Linked DNA regions of Homo sapiens. The protein of the gene in region 5 interacts with the protein of the main gene of each other region in a pairwise test. Each region holds a gene or a part of one and is shown on either strand. Other genes may lie near its edges. The genes, in order: TRIM55, NUP54, PBX2, GSK3B and DCTN3.

Evidence for each region.
Region 1: the proteins of DCTN3 (region 5) and TRIM55 interact in a two-hybrid assay, tested with the Homo sapiens proteins (one large-scale study listed by BioGRID).
Region 2: the proteins of DCTN3 (region 5) and NUP54 interact in binary tests that used the Homo sapiens proteins (3 or more experiments, as listed by UniProt).
Region 3: the proteins of DCTN3 (region 5) and PBX2 interact in a two-hybrid assay, tested with the Homo sapiens proteins (one large-scale study listed by IntAct).
Region 4: the proteins of DCTN3 (region 5) and GSK3B interact in a two-hybrid assay, tested with the Homo sapiens proteins (one large-scale study listed by BioGRID and IntAct).

The regions. Positions count from the first base shown.
Region 1 is NC_000008.11:66,147,114-66,151,323, reverse strand, and holds part of TRIM55 (tripartite motif-containing protein 55), read right to left. Parts: intron 1,680-4,210; coding exon 1,446-1,679; intron 1,108-1,445; coding exon 1,085-1,107; intron 983-1,084; coding exon 858-982; intron 1-857. UniProt on the Homo sapiens protein: E3 ubiquitin ligase that plays an important role in regulating cardiac development and contractility, muscle growth, metabolism, and fiber-type differentiation.
Region 2 is NC_000004.12:76,127,426-76,131,635, forward strand, and holds part of NUP54 (nucleoporin p54), read right to left. Parts: intron 3,860-4,210; coding exon 3,805-3,859; intron 3,325-3,804; coding exon 3,231-3,324; intron 1-3,230. UniProt on the Homo sapiens protein: Component of the nuclear pore complex, a complex required for the trafficking across the nuclear membrane.
Region 3 is NC_000006.12:32,184,233-32,187,912, reverse strand, and holds the end of PBX2 (pre-B-cell leukemia transcription factor 2), read left to right. Parts: intron 1-130; coding exon 131-266; intron 267-517; coding exon 518-671; intron 672-1,011; coding exon 1,012-1,100; intron 1,101-1,222; coding exon 1,223-1,309; intron 1,310-1,438; coding exon 1,439-1,531; 3' UTR 1,532-3,180; downstream 3,181-3,680. UniProt on the Homo sapiens protein: Transcriptional activator that binds the sequence 5'-ATCAATCAA-3'. Activates transcription of PF4 in complex with MEIS1.
Region 4 is NC_000003.12:120,083,928-120,088,137, reverse strand, and holds part of GSK3B (glycogen synthase kinase-3 beta), read left to right. Parts: intron 1-3,489; exon of another isoform or gene 3,490-3,574; intron 3,575-4,210. UniProt on the Homo sapiens protein: Constitutively active protein kinase that acts as a negative regulator in the hormonal control of glucose homeostasis, Wnt signaling and regulation of transcription factors and microtubules, by phosphorylating and inactivating glycogen synthase (GYS1 or GYS2), EIF2B, CTNNB1/beta-catenin, APC, AXIN1, DPYSL2/CRMP2, JUN, NFATC1/NFATC, MAPT/TAU and MACF1.
Region 5 is NC_000009.12:34,615,271-34,618,205, forward strand, and holds part of DCTN3 (dynactin subunit 3), read right to left. Parts: intron 2,702-2,935; coding exon 2,615-2,701; intron 844-2,614; coding exon 760-843; intron 1-759. UniProt on the Homo sapiens protein: Part of the dynactin complex that activates the molecular motor dynein for ultra-processive transport along microtubules. Together with dynein may be involved in spindle assembly and cytokinesis.

The DNA.
Region 1 (4,210 bases), on a different chromosome or scaffold from region 5:
TAATCAGGATAAAATTTCAGAAATGGGACTTCTGGGCCAAAAGGTAGGAATGTGGTTATAGCTCAGGGAGTATAACTAGTCACACAGACCCAGGTTTATGTTCAGGTTGTGACTTATTCTATGAGTTGTTACTATTCTTGTCCTCTAAATTTTGATTAAGTTGATGTGCTGCAATATCTAACCCACATGCCTCCTATGTATTGTTTTTATCTCATCTTTAACCTTGCTCCTGCTGACACTTTACATTATTTTGGCTAACACTGTGCATAGGATTGAAGTTGAGATATCATCATTATCAATTATGAAGCATTTGCTTATCAAGAGTCAAATACCCAACCTGACATTAAAATAGGCACCAGGCCGGGCATGGTGGCTCACTTCTGTAATCCCAGCACTTTGGGAGGCCAAGGCAGGTGGATCACCTGAGGTCAGAAGTTCGAGACCAGCCTGGCCAACATGGCGAAACCCTACCTCTCTAATAATTCAAAAATTAGCCGGGTGTGGTGGCAGGTGCCTGTAATCCCAGCTACTCAGGAGGCTGAGGCGGGAGAATCGCTTGAACCCAGGAGGTGGAGGTTCCAGTGAGCCAAGATCGTGCCATTGCACTCTAGGCTGGGCAACAGAGTGAGAGTCCATCAAAAAAAAAAAAAGGCACCATATGTGCAAAGCTAAATAAACACTGTCAACAAACGATGTGATCCTGTAATGAAATAGAGCTTCACATTGGATATGATCCTTGTAAAGTTGTCGACATTGATTCTGGAGGTGATTCTGAATCCCCGCTTTCCTCCCACCCAACTCTTCGGCAGCTTTCACACACCTGCAACTTCGGCCAAATGGTCAAAAGAATAACAAACCTCTGTAAAAGTCAATTTCACGTATTATCTTTTCTTCTCTATTGAGGTTGACTGTGAAGTGGTTCATGTTCTCATAGCCATGTTCTATTTTCTCCATCTGAAATGCCTTTGATGCTTCCGAGATTCTGCAACAAAGACAAGTTGCCACTTTCTGTCACTGTTGAAAATTGGATAGCCTTGGGTAAAGGTGAAAATATGCATTTTTACATAAAATAAAAAGTTCTTACTTTTTTAGCAGGGTTTTGGCATTCTGTGAAAGCAAACAAAAGATAGTCTTACTTAAATTATTTCCACAAAAGACAGTGGTAAGACAATTATTTCCTTTGTTGACTCTGAGAATCTCATAGCTTAGTTTCTAAATGTCATAAATAACTGCTGTCTTATAACAGAACCCTATTAGATTTAAGCAGTATCATAGACATGCTATTTAAGTTGTTTAAATAGATTAATATATAAGCACATGGGGTTTATATTTTAGTTGGTAAAATAAATAAAAACTGAAATGTACATAAAATAATAAAAATGTGATAACTAATTTTCCAACACCCACCTTTTGGGTTGTTACTTTGGTGCCAAAAAGAGACTTACCTGCAGAAACACTGCCATTTCTGGCTCATCCATAAACTGAATTCCTGACTCAACCAACTTTGAGACGTTCTCCAAATGATCAGAATACTTTTTGATCAGAGCACGGACATGTTCCAGTTTCTCCTCTTGGGTTCGGGTAATGACTTGGGTCATTTCATTCTTCCTCTCCTCCAAAATGCCATACAGGTAATCAAACTTCTCACAAAGCTCTTGTTTCTGTTTTCTGCAACATTCCTATTAGTTGGGTTAGCTAATGTTAGAAAGTATTTGAAACAAAGTCGATTTGGAGAAATCACCTAGTTATCCTGGGAAAGAAGAACATTTACTTATGTAGGATATTTTTTTCTTTTCCCTGAAGATGTCTATTTAGGTATGGATACCCACTATGTTGGTGCTTTGGAAATTCCATTTTTAACAAATTTGATATTTAGACTATCTAAAACTCAATTAAATTGGCTACATGAATCAATGGTTTTTCAATCTTCTGTTCTTTATAAATGGAGAATTTCATAGAAATAAAGAATGATTTTCTTTTATATTATATTTGGGTTACATAGGTTATAGGTTATATTTTGCTTTGGAGTGTGTGTGCATGTGTGTGCATGCAAGGAAAATACTATGATACTTCCTGGTTTGTACCTTAAAGTCTCTGCTCCACCTATACCAATATTGTCCTAGTTTCAGTCCTCCTATATAGAATTTGTAGCTTCCCAAAGGCCTCTGCAGCTAGGATTCCCTCCTCCCAGTCAACTTACACACTGCAACCAAGTTAATTTTCTCAGAGTACAGTTCTAATCATGTTTTTTTGTTCTTTCCTTTCTTTCTTCTTTGAGACAGAGTCTAGCTCTGTTGCCCACGCTAGAGTACAGTGGTGTGATCTCGGCTCATTGCAACCTCCGCCTCCCAGGTTCAGGCAATTCTCCTGCCTCAGCATCCCAAGTAGCTAGAATTACAGGCACCTGCCACCACACCCAGCTAATTTTTGAATTTTTAGTAGAGATGGGGTTTCACCACATTGGCCAGGCCGGTCTTGAACTCCTGACCTACAGTGATCCGCCCACCTCAGCCTCCCAAAGTGCTGGGATTACAGGCGTGAGCCACCGTGCCCGGCCTTAATCATGTTTTTTTCTATGATGACTCCCTATTACACAAAGAATAACACTTAAACTTCCTAACTAGCTTTCAAGACCCCTCCATGATCTGGTTCCAATTTCTCTCATAACATTCTACTATCCTCCATTGTATACCCTGAATTCCAGCAAAAATAAACCACTCACTTTCTTTGTTCATGCTTTCCCTTCTGTCTACAGTGTTCTTCCCCAAGTCACCACTGCAAACTCTATGCAATTTCAAAGACATTGTCAGACTACCACTTCTTCCATAAAGTGTCCCTTGATGTTTATGGCTGAATGCAACTTTTAACTTTCTGAAATCTCATAATAGTTACCATTGATAGCATATATCTGTATCTACCAGATCCTCTATTTATCCAATACTGCCTAAGAATGGGTAATACTGTATCTGGTCTATGCTCTTGGAGAGAAAGGCTGTGTTGGAAGTCTGGCTTGCACATTTGTGTTGTGTGGCTGAAGTATCTCCAGTACCATCCAGATCCCTTTAGTCTGGGCCCATCTTTAAATCATAATTAATTATCCAGTTCATCTAGTCATTGGCCTTTTGGTTTTTCAATCCCTGGTAAGCTTGGTGTGCATGTATGCCAATCTCCTTGGACTTGACCATCTCTGGGTCCAGGACCTTTATAGCTGAGAGCAGGTTGTGAGCCATAGTGATCTAACCTAGCTCTCCCGCACAGTGAGAGCTTCTTGGGAATCCAGCAAATTTATTTCTGACATCTCTGACCATTCTATACCCTTTATTACATATTCTTTCATTTTGGTAAACATTGAAGTCTTTTATGTCATGTATTGCTTTCTTCCTTTATGTGAATTTCTTAAATATCCAAAGTATATTTTTTTTGAGGGTAGAATCTGGGTCTGCCTAGGACACAGAGCACCTTGGATAGTAGCTGTTCACTAAATATCTGTTGAATAGATTTTGTGGTTTTTTTTTTTTTTTTTTTTTTTGAGATGGAGTCATGCTCTGTCACCCACGCTGGAGTGCAATGGCGCGATCTCGGCTCACTGCAAGCTCCACCTCCCAGGTTCAAGTGATTCTCCTGCCTCAGGCTCCTGAGTAGCTGGGATTACAGGCACATGCCACCTTGCCCGGCTAATTTTTGTATTTTTAGTAAAGAAGGAGTTTCACCATATTGGTCAGGCTGATCTCAAACTCCTGACCTCATGATCCACCCGCCTCGGCCTCCCAAAGTGCTGGGATTACAGGCGTGAGCCACCAATCCTGGCGGAATAGATTTTTTTTTTAATGTGTTTCATTTCCTCTCAATTTCTCTACTATTCTCAGTATGGAGTCAGGGAGAATGACCTAAACCAAATTGTTGATTATGAAGATACTCTGCAAATGTGCAAGAAATACATCCCTTACTCCATTGCCTTCCTTGGAACAGTCAATTCTCATCACAGTTCCCAACCAAATTATAATGCATGGAGATCCAGTGGTGCCAACTATTTTAATAGTAAATGCCTTACCACTGTCATCCACCCATTCATTCATGGATTTAACAAACAATGCATGTCATTTGTGTCAAGACTCTGGGGATCCAAAAAAGAATTAACATAGTTCCTATTCTCAAGGAGCTCACAGTTCACTGAGAAAGACTATAGACCAATAATGTAATTCAATATGGT
Region 2 (4,210 bases), on a different chromosome or scaffold from region 5:
CCATCTCAAAAAAAAAAAAAAAAAAAAAATGGACCCACTATTTAGAGAAAAATAAATCTGAGTTCATACCACATACTTTATATAAAGGTAAACTTCATGATGACAACAAAAGACTCAAACGTGAAAGGTTAAACTCTAAATTTTTTTTAATGTAGGATACTCTCAGACTTTGGGGTGAAAAATTATTTAAGCAAATTCCCAAAAAGAAAATACAAGGCAAACATTTAATGGATATCATTACATTAAAATTAAGGATTTCTCTTCAACTACAGACACCAAAGACAGAATTAACAAAGAGATGAGAAACTAGAAGATATTTACAACGTTATAAACAGAGACTACAATCTAGAGTAAATGATTACTGAAGTTCAATAAAGAAAAAATAGGAAGCCCAGTGGAAACACTGGCCAAAGATATGAATGATTTCAGTTCTGGACAAGATGGACTAAGCATATACAACCCCAATCTCTCCCATTTAATATAGCTATAAAACTTGGATGGAATACACGGGGCAGCTATTTGGGAACTCTGGCAGGAAGATCAGGTAAGATAGGAATTTAAAGTACCAATAAACTTGTGGTGAGTTTACCCATTTTTCCCCTCAGGCGTCCCTAGTCTGGTTTCAACCCAGCCTCAAACCTGGAAATGAGCATAAATGCTGAAAGGGAGCTCCAAGGGAAGTCTGCTAGTTATAGTGGGAGGAGATACATCGTATTACCTAGAGAAAGGTTTCTCAACTTCAGCACTATTAATCTTGGGTAATTCCTTGTTGTGGGAGTACTGTTCTGTACACTGCAGAATGTGTGCAGCATCTGGGCCTCTACACATTAGACGCCTGTAGTACTCCCCAACCAAGAGTCTCCAGACATTGCCAAATGTGCTCTGGGAGACAAAATCACCACCACCACCACAAGCCACTACTAAGAAGTACTGCTCTAAGACTTGAAATAATAGATTAAAAGGAAATGCTGAAAAAAAAAAAAAAGTCCAAATAACTCAAAAGAAAGCAGAAAAGTAGAAACAGGAATGAAAAACAGAGGCTACAAACACAAAACAAATAAATGGTAGGACTAAATCCAAACTTTTTGCTGTCTACAAGAATCTCGCTTCAAATATAACAATATAGGTAGGTTAAAAGCAAAAAGATGGACAAAGGTATGCCATACAAACACTTTTTATCAAAAGAAAGGTAGCGTGGCTATGTTAACACCAGACAAAGACTTCTGAGTGTCTTGAGTAAGTGTCCATGAACAGATGAATGGATAAAGAAAACATGGTGTGTATGTGTACACATATATACACACACAATAGAATACTATTTAATCATGAAAAAGAATGAAGTGCTACCATTTGCAGCAACATAGATGAACTTGGAAGACATTTTGTTAAGTGAAATAAGCCACGTGCAGAAAGATAAATTCTGCATGTTCTCACTCATATGTGGAAGCTAAAAAAAGTTGATTTAGTAGAAGAAAAGAGTAGAATAGTGGCTACTAGAGGTGGAGAAAGAGTAGGAGTAGGGAACTGCCAAAGGTTGCTTAACAGATACAAAAGTACAGCTGGATAGGAGGATTAAGTTCCAGTGTTCTATAGCACTATAGGTAACTATAATTCACAACCATTTATTGTGTTTCAAATAGCTATAGGAGTGAATTTCCCATGATACCAACAAATGATAAATGTATGGGGTAATGGATATGCTAATTACTTTATTTGATCATTACACACTATATCCATGTATTGAATTATCACACTATGCCCCATAAATATGTAGTTATGTATCGATTAAAAACAATAAAAGAAAAGGCCATTAGAGAAGATTTAAAACTTACCGAGGATTAAGAGGGATATGATATAATAATAAAAGGTAAATTTGCCAAGAAAACACAACAATCCTATATAACAACAGCCCTTCAAACTATTAATACATGAAGCAAAAACTGAGAAATGAAAGGAGAAAAACACAAATCCGTAAGTGTTGCTGTAGATTTCAAATCTCTTCTCAAACTAGCAGACAGAAAAAACAACAAGAATACAGAACTGAGCAATACTATCAACCAACTGGATCTCACTGACATTAATAGAAAACTTCACCCAAGGACTGCAGAATACACATTATTTTCATAGGCTCCTGGGTTATAAAACCTCAGCAAAGTTGGCCGGGCGCAGTGGCTCACGCCTGTAACCCTAGCACTTTCGGGAGGCCGAGATGGGTGGATCACGAGGTCAGGAGATCGAGACCATCCTGGTTAACACGGTGAAACCCCGTCTCTACTAAAAATACAAAAAATTAGCCGGGCGTGGTGGCAGGCGCCTGTAGTCCCAGCTACTCCGGAGGCTGAGGAAGGAGAATGGCGTGAACTCAGGAGGTGGAGCTTGCAGCGAGCCTAGATCGCGCCACTGTGCTCCAGCCTGGGCGACAGAGCGAGAGACGTCTCAAAAAAAAAAAAAAAAAAAAAAAAACCTTAGCAAAGTTAAAAGAATTGAAATCATAGAAATTTCTCTGACCTTTAAGAATCTTTAAGTATTTAATTATGAAAGTTTTTTTTTTTTTTTTTTTTTTTTTTTTTTTTTTTGAGGAGTCTCACTCTGTCGCCCAGGCTGGAGTGCAGTGGCACGATTTCTGTTCACTGCAACCTCTGCCTCCCGGGTTCAAACAATTCTCATGCCTCAGCCTCCCAAGTTGCTGGCATTACAGGCGTGCACCACGACACCCAGCTAATTTTTGAATTTTTTAGTACAGACCAGGTTTTGCCAAGTCGGCCAGGCTTGTCTTGAACTCCTGATCTCAAGTGATCCACCCACCCTGGTCTCCTAAAAAAGTCTACTTTATGAAATAAAATATTAAGTATATTTAAGCATTAATTTTATCAACATACAATAATATACCAAGACAATTATATGTCAACATAAAATAATCATTACTATAACCTTCATTTTCATAAGGCCCCATAAATAATAATATGCAATCCCTGGCTGAAACTGGAAATGACAGTCTAATTAATCCACTAAGACAAGAATTCTAAATTCATTATTATATCAAATCAGATTCATGTGATTTGGGGACTTCTATCATAAAGAAGGTAGTTGTATAAAACTATTAAATTGCAGTGTATGCTACATTGTTTCCTGATTAAGATAAAACAGTAGCACATATACTAAAAAGAATTAAATGTCTATAATCCCTTTCCCTACTTCCAGGGCCAGGGAATAAAAAGCTAAATGCTTACATCTAATCTGGTTTGATGCTGCTTAGTCATCTGATCTTGAACCTTCAGTCTTCGGAGAAGTTCCTTAAAACCCACCATTGGTACAGGAATTAACCTGAAGAAACGCAGTGAACAATTTTCAGACCTTAAGCCTATTACTACAAAATACAAGAAGTGAAGGTTTTAGTAACACTCATGTAATTTTACATCAACTTTCTAGGGCTCTAAGGCAGATCTATGACTATGAGATAACCATGTTATACCAAAGAGATTTTATTCAACCTCCCTATTTTACAAATGAGGAAATACAGTTCAGTCAAAACATTACATTATTAAATGAAAACGCAAATAGAATTTTCCGCTCCTAGTTAGTTCTCACTATGCTATGCTGCCTTACCATAATCTTTTTTTTTCTTATTTTTTTCTTTTTGTTTTGGCTGAAGCTTTAGCTGGACAATAATCAATATTTTTTAAAGGCCAGGAAAATGAAAATAAACTTGTCTCATATGTAAGAATTATAATTAATAGCTCCCATGTTTGCTTTCCTAGTAGCAAATATTAGTTCTTAAATGAAACAAGATGAAGACATACTTACTTTTCAGAATCAGGGTTATCTACCTTGGCCTGTTCCCAGATAATAGGATCAACACCTACCACAAATAAAAAATATTTTTTCTAAAACAATTTTCTATTTTTATAATATGTGTATGACAAAGGCTTTCCTAAAGCAAGACCCTATACCTAGAAGCTATAATGAAAAGTGACTGTCAAATATAATCATGGTAAAAATACAAATTTTTGCAGAATAAATAAAGTTCAAAAAAAGCACAGATTGAAAGGAACTATCTATAACCTATAGGATAATAGATTAACCTCCAGAATATAGAAAGAGTTCCTATACATCAAAAAGGAAGACAAAAAAATCTAGAAAATGGGCAAAGGACACAAATAGGTAACTCACAAAAAATATAAATGTAGCTAATAAACATATTAAAAATAAG
Region 3 (3,680 bases), on a different chromosome or scaffold from region 5:
CTCCAAGACCCTGAGCTGCCATGCTGCACAACATGGTACTCCATGACAATGGTGACTCTGGGGTCATGCCATGTGACAGCCCTGCCAGGACATCAACATCCTCCTCACTGCTCTTCTCCCTCCTCTGTAGACGAAAGCGCCGTAACTTCAGCAAACAGGCCACTGAGGTCCTAAATGAGTATTTCTACTCCCACCTGAGTAACCCATATCCTAGTGAGGAGGCCAAGGAGGAGCTTGCCAAGAAGTGTGGCATCACCGTGTCTCAGGTATTATGGAGGTTGCGGGAGGAGTTGTCAGGCAAAGTGCACGCATCTCAGCTAGGTGCAGTGGTGTGTTCCTGTAATCCCAGCTACTAGGGAGGCTGAAGTGGGAGGATCACTTGAATTGGAGACCAGCCTGGGCAACAGCATAGTGAGACCAGGAAGCAAAAAAAAAAAAAATGCTGTCACTCACATCTTATTCAGTGAAGGACTTCAGAGGCAAATGTTTCTACCTGACCCTCCTTTCTGCCCCACAGGTCTCCAACTGGTTTGGCAACAAGAGGATTCGCTATAAGAAAAACATCGGAAAGTTCCAAGAGGAGGCAAACATCTATGCTGTCAAGACCGCCGTGTCAGTCACCCAGGGGGGCCACAGCCGCACCAGCTCCCCGACACCCCCTTCCTCTGCAGGTGGATCCCACTGTCACCCCGGCTGACTGTTTTGCACACTTCCTGCTTTTGTTCCCACTTCCTATCTAGGCAGGATCATAGCAGAGAGGGGGCCTTTTGGGGTGAGAGGGACCGAGCTGAGATAGGCTGGAGATGTCAGGGGACAGAGGCCATTCCAGTGATCTTAGTTCTGCCTTTCTTCCCACGGGTGGCCAAGGAACAGCCTGCTCTTTCTGTGTGTTGGAATGTTATTTTGTGGATAATTGGAGTATAGTAGCATGTCCCCACAAGAGTTGAGAGTTGTGGTTCATCCTCTACCATCACGGGCTCTATTACACTCTTCCCTCTCTGCCCCCACAAGGCTCTGGCGGCTCTTTCAATCTCTCAGGATCTGGAGACATGTTTCTGGGGATGCCTGGGCTCAACGGAGATTCCTATTCTGCTTCCCAGGTCAGATGCCCATCTCCTCTCGAATAGGGCTTTCCCCAACTCCATTTCCTCTACTTTAGGATACAAGACCTCTTTCCTCTGAGGCTTCTCTTCACTGTCATACCTTCCTCTGCTGCCTGCAGGTGGAATCACTCCGACACTCGATGGGGCCAGGGGGCTATGGGGATAACCTCGGGGGAGGCCAGATGTACAGCCCACGGGAAATGAGGGTGAGTGGATCCTGAAGCTCCTCTCTGTCCAGTTCTCACAGGACAGAGGGGCATTTTCCCTAGTAATGTTGTGCCCACACAGGGTTCCCAGGGCTTTCTCTGTTTTCTGTACTCTGTCTCTCCTTTCAGGCAAATGGCAGCTGGCAAGAGGCTGTGACCCCCTCTTCAGTGACATCCCCAACGGAGGGACCAGGGAGTGTTCACTCTGATACCTCCAACTGATCTTGCCCCTCAGGGTCACAGGGGTGGGGGCTCTCACAAGGCGACTTGAAGAGGACGCAGGCTTCCAGAGGACAAACCCCAATACAGGAGAAGCACAAGACAGAGAAGGGCCAATGGGGTCATCCCCTCCCTAACGAGACTCTCTGTGCTGGGGGTGCTAATTACATGGCAGGAAGAATGGGGCCTCTAAGGGGAGTGTGGGGTCTGTCTCTCCCTTTTTTCCATCTTTTTCCTCTCTCGCTTTCTTTCTTACACAGAAACATACACATACCGAGAAACCTATTTCTCAGACCCCTTTTTCTCCTCTGTCTTTCTCTCTCCCTCTCCCACACCTCACACACACATACTCCCACTTGCAACTATTCTGTTTCTCTCCTGGGCTCCCCCACTTTCCCTTCCCCACCCCACTTGTATGCTCTGGAATCTGTGGAGACGCCAGCCCTGCCCAATCAGAGATGCCAAAAATGGGGACATGACTTCTGGACAGAGGACATGGGCCACGCCCCCATGCATCCCCACCCCCGCCCCTCCGGACGGCTTACTTACCTCATACGCAGCTCATCTTAAACCAATAGAATCGCTCGGTGGACGAGAGTGTCTGACTCAGATATCTACCTCGGAGGGAGTTTCTGCTACTTTAGGGAATTATTGACTGGGCTTTGGGGTTGAACTTTTTTTTTTTTAAAGAAAGAAAAAGAAACCCTGGGATCCATCTGTTTTTTTTGTTGTTGTTGTTGTTTTTGTTGTTGTTGGTGGTGGTGGTGGTGGTGGTTCTTAATTTTTAATTTAGTTTGGGGAAGTAGCTTGTTTTTTTTTTTATAAATATGTTGATTTCTTGTCTTTTTTTTTTTTTATTTCTTACTTTCCCATATTAGGGGTGATAGCCAAAGGGGTTCTGGTAAGAGAAAGGGGGACAAACAGAACTGGTAAAGAGGCCCCCCTGGCTCCAGGCCTGTCCATCAGGAAGTAAATTTTACAGGGCACCAAGCTTTGCCCCCTAAAATCCCTTAGGTGTTCTTTGTTCATGCAGGCAGGTTTCTGCCGCATTTGATGTGGAGGCAGTGAAGGGCTTGCCCTGCTGGCCTCTCATCCCCCTTCTTCCCACAACCCTTGGGCAGGGCTGGACTCAGTAATTTTGAGGAAATTGAAGATGCCATCTTCCCCTGTGAGTGACATGTCTTTAATTTTTTAAAAAACTACTATTTGAAAATTGGAGGGGGAAGAATGGGAAGGGAGTTATTGCCAAATATGTTAAATATGGGTTGGGGTGCTTGTATATGTATCTTCCTCAATTTCCCCATAAATGAGGTATCTTTTTGTCACACCAAAATCAAGGGGTAGGGAGAGGGAGGAGGTTGCAAAAAGCCAGATGTGGGGGAAAAGTAACATCAACACTGTCCCATCCTCAGCCCTGAACTAGCTACCATCTGATCCCCTCAGACATTCTCAGGATTTTACAAGACTGTCAGAGTGGGGAACCCCTCCCATTAAAGATCCGGGCAGGACTGGGGACAGGTTGGAAGTGTGATGGGTGGGGGGGTGGGAGGCATGGGCCGGGGGCAGTTCTCTCCTCACTTGTAAACTTGTGTAGTTTCACAGAAAAAAAACAAAATGCAGTTTTAAATAAAGAAATTTCTTTTTTCCCTGGGTTTAGTTGAGAATTTTTTTCAAAAAACATGAGAAACCCCAGAAAAAAAATGATTTTCTTTCACGAAGTTCCAAACAGGTTTCTCTCCTGTTCCCCAGCCTTGCCTTCATGATGCAGGCCCAATTGCACCCTTGCAGACAACAGTCTGGCCTGAACCCTATTGATGCAACTTTGCGCAATCAAGATGGGGCTCCAGTGGGTCACCAGGCAGCCCTGATGGACTGATGGAATAAATAGGATCGGGGGCTCTGAGGGAATGAGACCCTAGAGGGTACACTCCCCATCCCCCAGGGAAGTGACTGTACCCAGAGGCTGGTAGTACCCAGGGGTGGGGTGATAATTATTTCTCTAGTACCTGAAGGACTCTTGTCCCAAAGGCATGAATTCCTAGCATTCCCTGTGACAAGACGACTGAAAGATGGGGGCTGGAGAGAGGGTGCAGGCCCCACCTAGGGCGGAGGCCACAGCAGGGAGAGGGGCAGACAGAGCCAGGACCCTGGA
Region 4 (4,210 bases), on a different chromosome or scaffold from region 5:
GGTGGATCACGAGGTCAGGAGATCAAGACCATCCTGGCCAACGTGGGGAAACCCCGTCTCTACTAAAAATACAAAAATTAGCGGGGGCGTGGTGGTGTGCGTCTGTAGTCCCAGCTACTCAGGAGGCTGAGGCAGGAGAATCGTTTGAACCCATGAGGCGGAGATTGCAGTGAGCTGAGATCGTGCCACTGCACTCCAGCCTGGGCGACAGAGAGAGACTCTGTCTCAAAAAAAAAACAAAACAAAAGACAATTTAGTCGATTTGGGTTCTTAGTTTATAATCCCCCTTACCATTTTTGCTTATATTTTGGGAAGAGAGGTCAACTTCCAAACAATGTGCAGGTTCCAATTTTATAAGTGATTAAATCTTATATTTTTTGTATTGAATAGTTTTCTTAGCATGTTTGGTTTGATCACTTGAAGTAATGATGTATTTGTCTTGAAACTAGTTTTGTCAAACCAACTTTTTATTTCCAGAGTACCATGGTTAACAACAGCACAAAGCCAAGTCCTTAACGTGTTCCCTTAATAACATGGTCTAAGGTTAATTTCTTGATTCTTATTTCAAATCAATTCAGTAATAAAAAGTACACTTTTTTTTTTTTTGAGATGGAGTCTCGCACTGTTTCCTGGGCTGGAGTGCCATGGCGTGATCTGGGCTTACTGCAACCTCTGCCACCCAGGTTCAAGCGATTTTCCTGCCTCAGCCTCCCAAGTAGTTGGGATTACAGGTGCCTGCCACCACACCTGGCTAATTTTTTGTATTTTTAGTAGAGACGGAGTTTCACTGTGTTGGCCAGGCTGGTCTCAAAATCCTGACCTTGTGATCTTCCCACCTCGGCCTCCCAAAGTGCTGGGATTACAGGCGTGAACCACCACATGTGGCCGAACTAAATTGTGTTTCTAATTTAGTTTTCCTGAAGAATAACAGCTATGCATCAATGTGGAATTGTGTTATTTGGAATCTCACCTTATTGGAATTGGCTGGTAATTGACAGTAAACCAGAAGTGCTCCTGAGCAGCTAATATCTGCAGACAAATGGAGTGTAAACTTTGCTCATAGGTTAGTTTTCAGGCTTTTATTAACGGTTCCTTGTTATTATTTAACATATAGTTGTAATTCATTGAGTTGTCTGGGTTTTTTTGAAATCACAGATCAGGGGAATGGATAGGTACTGATTAAGCATTATGCTACTGAAAAGAATGGATGATTAGGGGAAACAAGCATATTGGGATTACTTAGTGTATGTAGGGTATGTAGGTTCATATAGTTCCAGGGTAAATCATTCTGATAATTGTTGAAAATGTTCACCCAGAGAAATTTTTTTTTTTTTTTGGAGACAGGGTCTCGCTGTGTTGCCTATGCCTAGCCTGGAGTGCAGTGGCACAGTCTTGGCTCACTGCAGCCTCTGCCTCCTGGGCTCGGGTGATCTTTTAACCTCAACCTCTGGAGTAACTGGGACTATAGGCATGCGCCAACATGCCTGGCTAGTTTTTGTAGTTTTTATAGAGAGGGGGTTTCGCCATCTTGCCCAGGCTGGTCTTGAACTCCTGGAATCAAGCAATCCTGCCTCAGCCTCCCACAGTGCTGGGATTACAGTCATGAGCCACTGCACCCATCTGAGAATATTAATTCTCTTTTAAAGAGGCAGGAGGCAGAAAAATCTCTTGTGGAAACCTGGGCTTCTGCATAAACTACATAAAATATCTGTAATTTGTTGATCACTGAAGTGATGAAGAGAACTGGGTCACCTCTGTCTGATTCACCATCTTCTAGTTGGATTTCAGCAGTATGGATAAAGGTACTAAAGTCTTTAGTGTGCTAGCCCAGGGTATTGTTTCCAACTCTTTCTTCCATTGTCCATCTACATTTATTAACTCAGCAGCAGAGTTTTATCTGATTTAAGATTTGTTGTCTTACTATTTCTGTTTTTTTTTTTTTCCTCCTTAGTATATATGGAATTGCTGCTTGGATTTTGGCTGGCTTGTACCTTTTGTTTGTGGACTGCTTAGAAGGCACTGCATGGAGTCATTTAAGCTTTCTTATGAATTATGAATAGCTATGTAGAGAGGAACTTTTCTAGATACATTTATGGCCTATGAGAATTGAAAAGCTGGGTATCTTAATTGTTAGGCTGAAGAAAAAGGGTGATAGTGGCAAAGTAGTTTTTCTTTTGGAGGTCTGAGAAATTCTTAGGGGCTTAATTGGCTAATATAACTAGAAAGGTTGGGTGATTTAGGTTTTTTTCCAAGGAAAGGTATCTTATTTAAATGCAACACTGTCTGCTTCCTGTTATTTTATAAAATTAGTTAATACTTTTTTTTTTTTCTCAAGACGGAATGTCACTGTGTCGCCCAGGCTGGGGTGCAGTGGCACAATCTTGGCTCACTGCAACCGCCACCTCGAGGCCTGGTTCAAGGAATTCCCCTGCCTCAGCCTCCTGAGTAGCTGGGATTACAGGCATATGCCACCATTCCCCGCTAATTTTTTTGTATTTGTAGTAGAGATGGGGTTTCACCATGTTGGCCAGACTAGTCCTGAACTCCTGACCTCAGGCAATCTGCTGGCCTCAGCCTCGCAAAGTACAGCAAAATCAGTTAATATTTTTAATTGATTAACACTTTCTTCATGACCTGTGTTGAAGTTATTGAGTTGAGTCAATTGAATTTCTAATGCTAGATTTTGAGTATGTGGTGTGAGCACCTGAAGAGTTGGAGGTACTGGAATTATGTCTGACATCAGACTGATAGTATTTGCAGGGACATTTGCCCTAGTGGAATTCAGGGTTTTCACATTCTATACATTACTTAAATTATGAAGGAAAGGGGGAAGCTTTGAGTTGGTAGACTTTTAATAATAAGATATAATTACATGTATATAGAAGAGCAACGTACTGTATATCATATTCTCATAATATATGGTAATAACGGCAGTAATTATTGAGTGCGGTGTGCCAGATAATTGCATGTTTTATTTACCTATTTTGCTTTAAATTTTAAAAAATGTAATTTACTCACATGGTTCAAAATTTTAAAGATATTCAGTGAAGTCTTCTCTCCTGCTCTGCAACAACCAGTTCTCTTTCCTGGAGACCACTGGCATTACAATTTCTTATGTGTCCTTTCATAGGTATTCTGAATCTTTACGGATTAATGATTTCTATAGTAGACTTGCATTTTGTGTATACATACATAAATTAACAATAGCTTTAGCAGAAGTGTTAGAATTAAAACAAATTTAAATCAGTAACTCTAGAAAATTGCTATTTTTTAACCTATTAAATTAGTAAATACTTATTTCTCTAAATATAAGTTAGTTGGAGAATAAGTGCAAAGATGACAGAGCTCCTCTCGTGGCAATTAGAGGTAAAATGTTAATAGTCTTAACCAATGAACAATTAATAGCACATTTAAAATAGATGTTTATTTCATAATAAAAAGACAGGATAATTTTTTAACTTTCTATTTTTCTAACATCTTAGATGAGAAAACCTGTTCTCTTGAGAGATCAGAGGCGCAGAGTGCGTCAGTGTCAATGAAGCCTGTGCCTTTTACTTCTTTAAGAGCGTACGGTTTCATTCTGCTCCTAAATCAAGCACCCCTTAGTTGTTGAATAAAAATTACTTTTATAAAGGAATATATGATTTAAAGAAATCAAATAGTGCAGAAGGGCTTATGATGGAAAGTAATCTTCTGTCCTCCAGTCCTACTTCTTAGAAGCAACATTGGCTATGACAGCTGTTTCCTCTAGTAGTTTTTGTCATATTTTTAATTATATGCTTTTTATCTATTTCTTAAAATTAATTTTTTTGTCTTATTGTGGTAGACATCATTTATTGTCATGCCCATCTCCCTTTTGCTTTCATACTGATATAATTATGCCACTATTTAAAAACTATTATTTATTTAAATTATTATTCAAATTATTCTCAGTATGTAGACATGGAACAGTATTCTATGTAGAAACAAGTAGTATACAGTGATCACATTTCCTTATGAGAATAGCTTTATTGAGATATAATTCACATACCGTAACATTCATTTTTTCATTACTCAGGTGTTCATAGACTTGTGTAACCATCCCAACCATCTAATTTTAGAGCACTTTTATCATTTCAGAGATAAAGCTTATACCCATTAGCAGCCATTCCCTATGTTCCCCTTCCCCACAGCTCTAGGCAACCACTAATTTACTCTCTGTCTTTATAGA
Region 5 (2,935 bases):
GGAAAAATACCTCCACAGACAGACAAGATGGATATCTGGATTCAATTAAAGCCACTATCTGCTTGTCAAAGTCCAGGCCCAGGGACTGCTCTCAGCAGTGCAGCAGAAAGAATTCACATACATTCATGGACCTGGCAGAGACTCTGATAGTAAAATCTGGGTTCTGCAGCACCTTGAAGAAGAGATGCTTGGGGGTAGGTAGAAGGCAGAAGGAATCCCCAGAGCTGGGGACTGCTAGAGCTTAGGCTAGTGTTCTCAGGCCCAAATTGCCTGAGGTCCTAAAACTGGGCTCTCTATCCTGGTAATTTTAATTGGTGGATGTGGCAAGTACCTCAGGGTGAGGATAAAGATAAGGAACAGGCCAGGCACAGTAGCTCACGCCTGTAATCCCAGCACTCTGAGAGGCCGAGGCAGGTGGATCACATGGGGCCAGGAGTTTGAGACCAGCCTGGACAACATGGTGAAACCCCGTCTCTACTAAAAATAGCCAGGTGTGGTGGCACACACCTGTAATCCTAGCTACTTGGGAGGCAAGGTGGGAAGTTTGTTTGAACCAGGAGGCAGCGGTTGCAGTGAGTCAAGATCATGCCACTGCACTCCAGCCTGGGTGACAGAGTACGACTCTGTCCAAAAAAAAAAAAAAAAGATAAGGAACAGACCCAACCCGAATCCACACAACCTGAAACACAGGAAAGTCTTGCCCATCCATCCACCTACCTCCCCAACCAGAGTAGTGAAGCTATAACCCCAGAGAGATACCTTTGATGTGAGCACTGTCCAGCATGGGCACCAAGGCATTCACCTGCTCCAGGAGTGCAACCTGGGAAAGGATAAACTGCTCCTCTAAAGCAAAAATGGACAAGATAGTTGCAGTGAAGCAAACCTGGGCATTGCTAATCAGCCCATGTAAGGGCCTGAGGACCTGGCAAGGGAGATGGCTAGGTCCTAGAGCTTTGGACAGTGACTCTGTCCACTGCCCCCTTCTCTAGGTGCACATTTCCATCCTGCCCCCAACTCTCCTGGATGCCTCAGGTCTGACCCATCTGAGCCTAATGAGCCTCTCAATTTCTCCAAATCCCACCTTTCTCCAAGGTTTAACTTCAAGACCTCTTCTTCTAGCCTCCTATCAACAAACTCAGGGAGCACCTCCTAGGCCACAAAATACAAAATACTTCAGACTTGGATCCCCACACCCAAGGGTCCCCAGGAAGGTCTAAAAGAGATATGTGGCAGACTACGCCAGGCAGGTTCTGCTCAGTGGCTCTCAGAGGCATAGACAATTATATGCTGGAGGAGAGCTGGGACAGTAATGGAAGAGTCCAGTGAGGAGAGCAGGATCTGGGCTAGGCCCTGTATGCACACGGGATTTCAATGCACTGAAATCCATAGAGTGGGAAGGGTATTCAAGAGAGAGGACTGTTACGTGCAAATGCTTAGAGGCAGGAATGCCTGTCAATTAGTAGAGGAGAAAGAATTCAATTAGCTGAACTGGAGTAGGGAGAGCACAGGAAACAGAGTTGGATGGGAGGGTAGACCCGGCCGACTGAAAGGCTTTGAATGGCAGACTATGGAATTAGGACTTTATCCTAGCAAGGCAGGATACACTGAGGTTCCAAAGTAGGCAAAGTGACATGTTGGGAACATGTTTTTGTGAGGGTGAGACTGAACCACATGCAGGAAGGGAAAGATTAGGGTCAAGAGTATGATTTAGGAGACTGTGCAACCATTCATATGCAAGTGGATGCACAATTCCTGAGGCAGTGCCACAGGGAGGGATGGAGAGGCTGGACTCAAGAGTCAGTGCAGGAGAATATCTAAACTTGGTGCTTGAGCGATGGCAATTGACCAAGAGCCCTTTGGGAACTCTGACAGCCCTTTTAGCAGGAGTGGCCCATCCTTACCCAGTCCTCAGTGCTGCATTGCACTGATCAGTCTCCTGGGAGACTGATCTCCCATCTGGGTTATAAGCTCAGGTCCCTGAAGCAGGGACCCTGTCTCCCCTAGCTCTGGCTGTGCCCATGAGGGCAGGGACTTTCTGGTTCACCACTGTATGCTTCCTCACTTAGGAAAGAACCTGGATCAGAGTAGATGATCATTATACATCTTTTGGATGAATAACGAAGCTCAAAAAACCCTAGCTTATAGAATGGCTGACTGATTAGCAGACATTGCCAAGGCAATAGTTCCTGCCTAGAACTCTGACACTGCAGAGCTTTCTCACATGAAAGAAAGATGTTGAAACTCATGCCAATACTCTCTCTGTTCTTTAATGGCAATGCTCTCTGCCCCTACCCTTTCCTAGAAGCTCCTCTGTCTAGTGAGCAGAAGTGAGGAAGGTTCTGAAGGAAAATCCAAGAGGCAAACTATTGATAGAACACTGGACTAGCTCCCACTGTGGCTGGCACCATGGCCTGCAGCTGGTGCAGAGGTATACTGTACTCAATGTCTACTAGAGGATCCATAGGATCCTCAACCCAGAACCAGGCCACAATTCCAGAGAGCAGCATCCAGGGCTTGTATCCACCAGAAGACTGGATGGAGAGGCCATCTCTGTGCTTAACCTCCCCGACGACCCACATCCTCAGATGCATGTACACATGTAGTCCAGCATTACCTGCTAGGATGAATTGCAGCTTAGAGGCATCAGGTATGGCAATGCGGTCGATGTACTCAGGATCCAGGTACTTGATCAGATCTTCAACTAGAAAAGTAGCAAGATGGAAAATGGAATAGGGTTGGGCAGTAGAGCTCTGCCTTATGAAGGATGTTTGACAAGTGGTCAGCCTTGAGGAGAGCCTTCAATGAGGAGCTGATACCCAACAGTGCCACATGAGCAGGGCTCCACCAGGCTCCCTATCCCCACTTCCCTATCTCTCCACTCTCTTCTCTTGAAGTCTCTTCTGACATCAAGCTTCAGAGCTGAAAACACAATTGC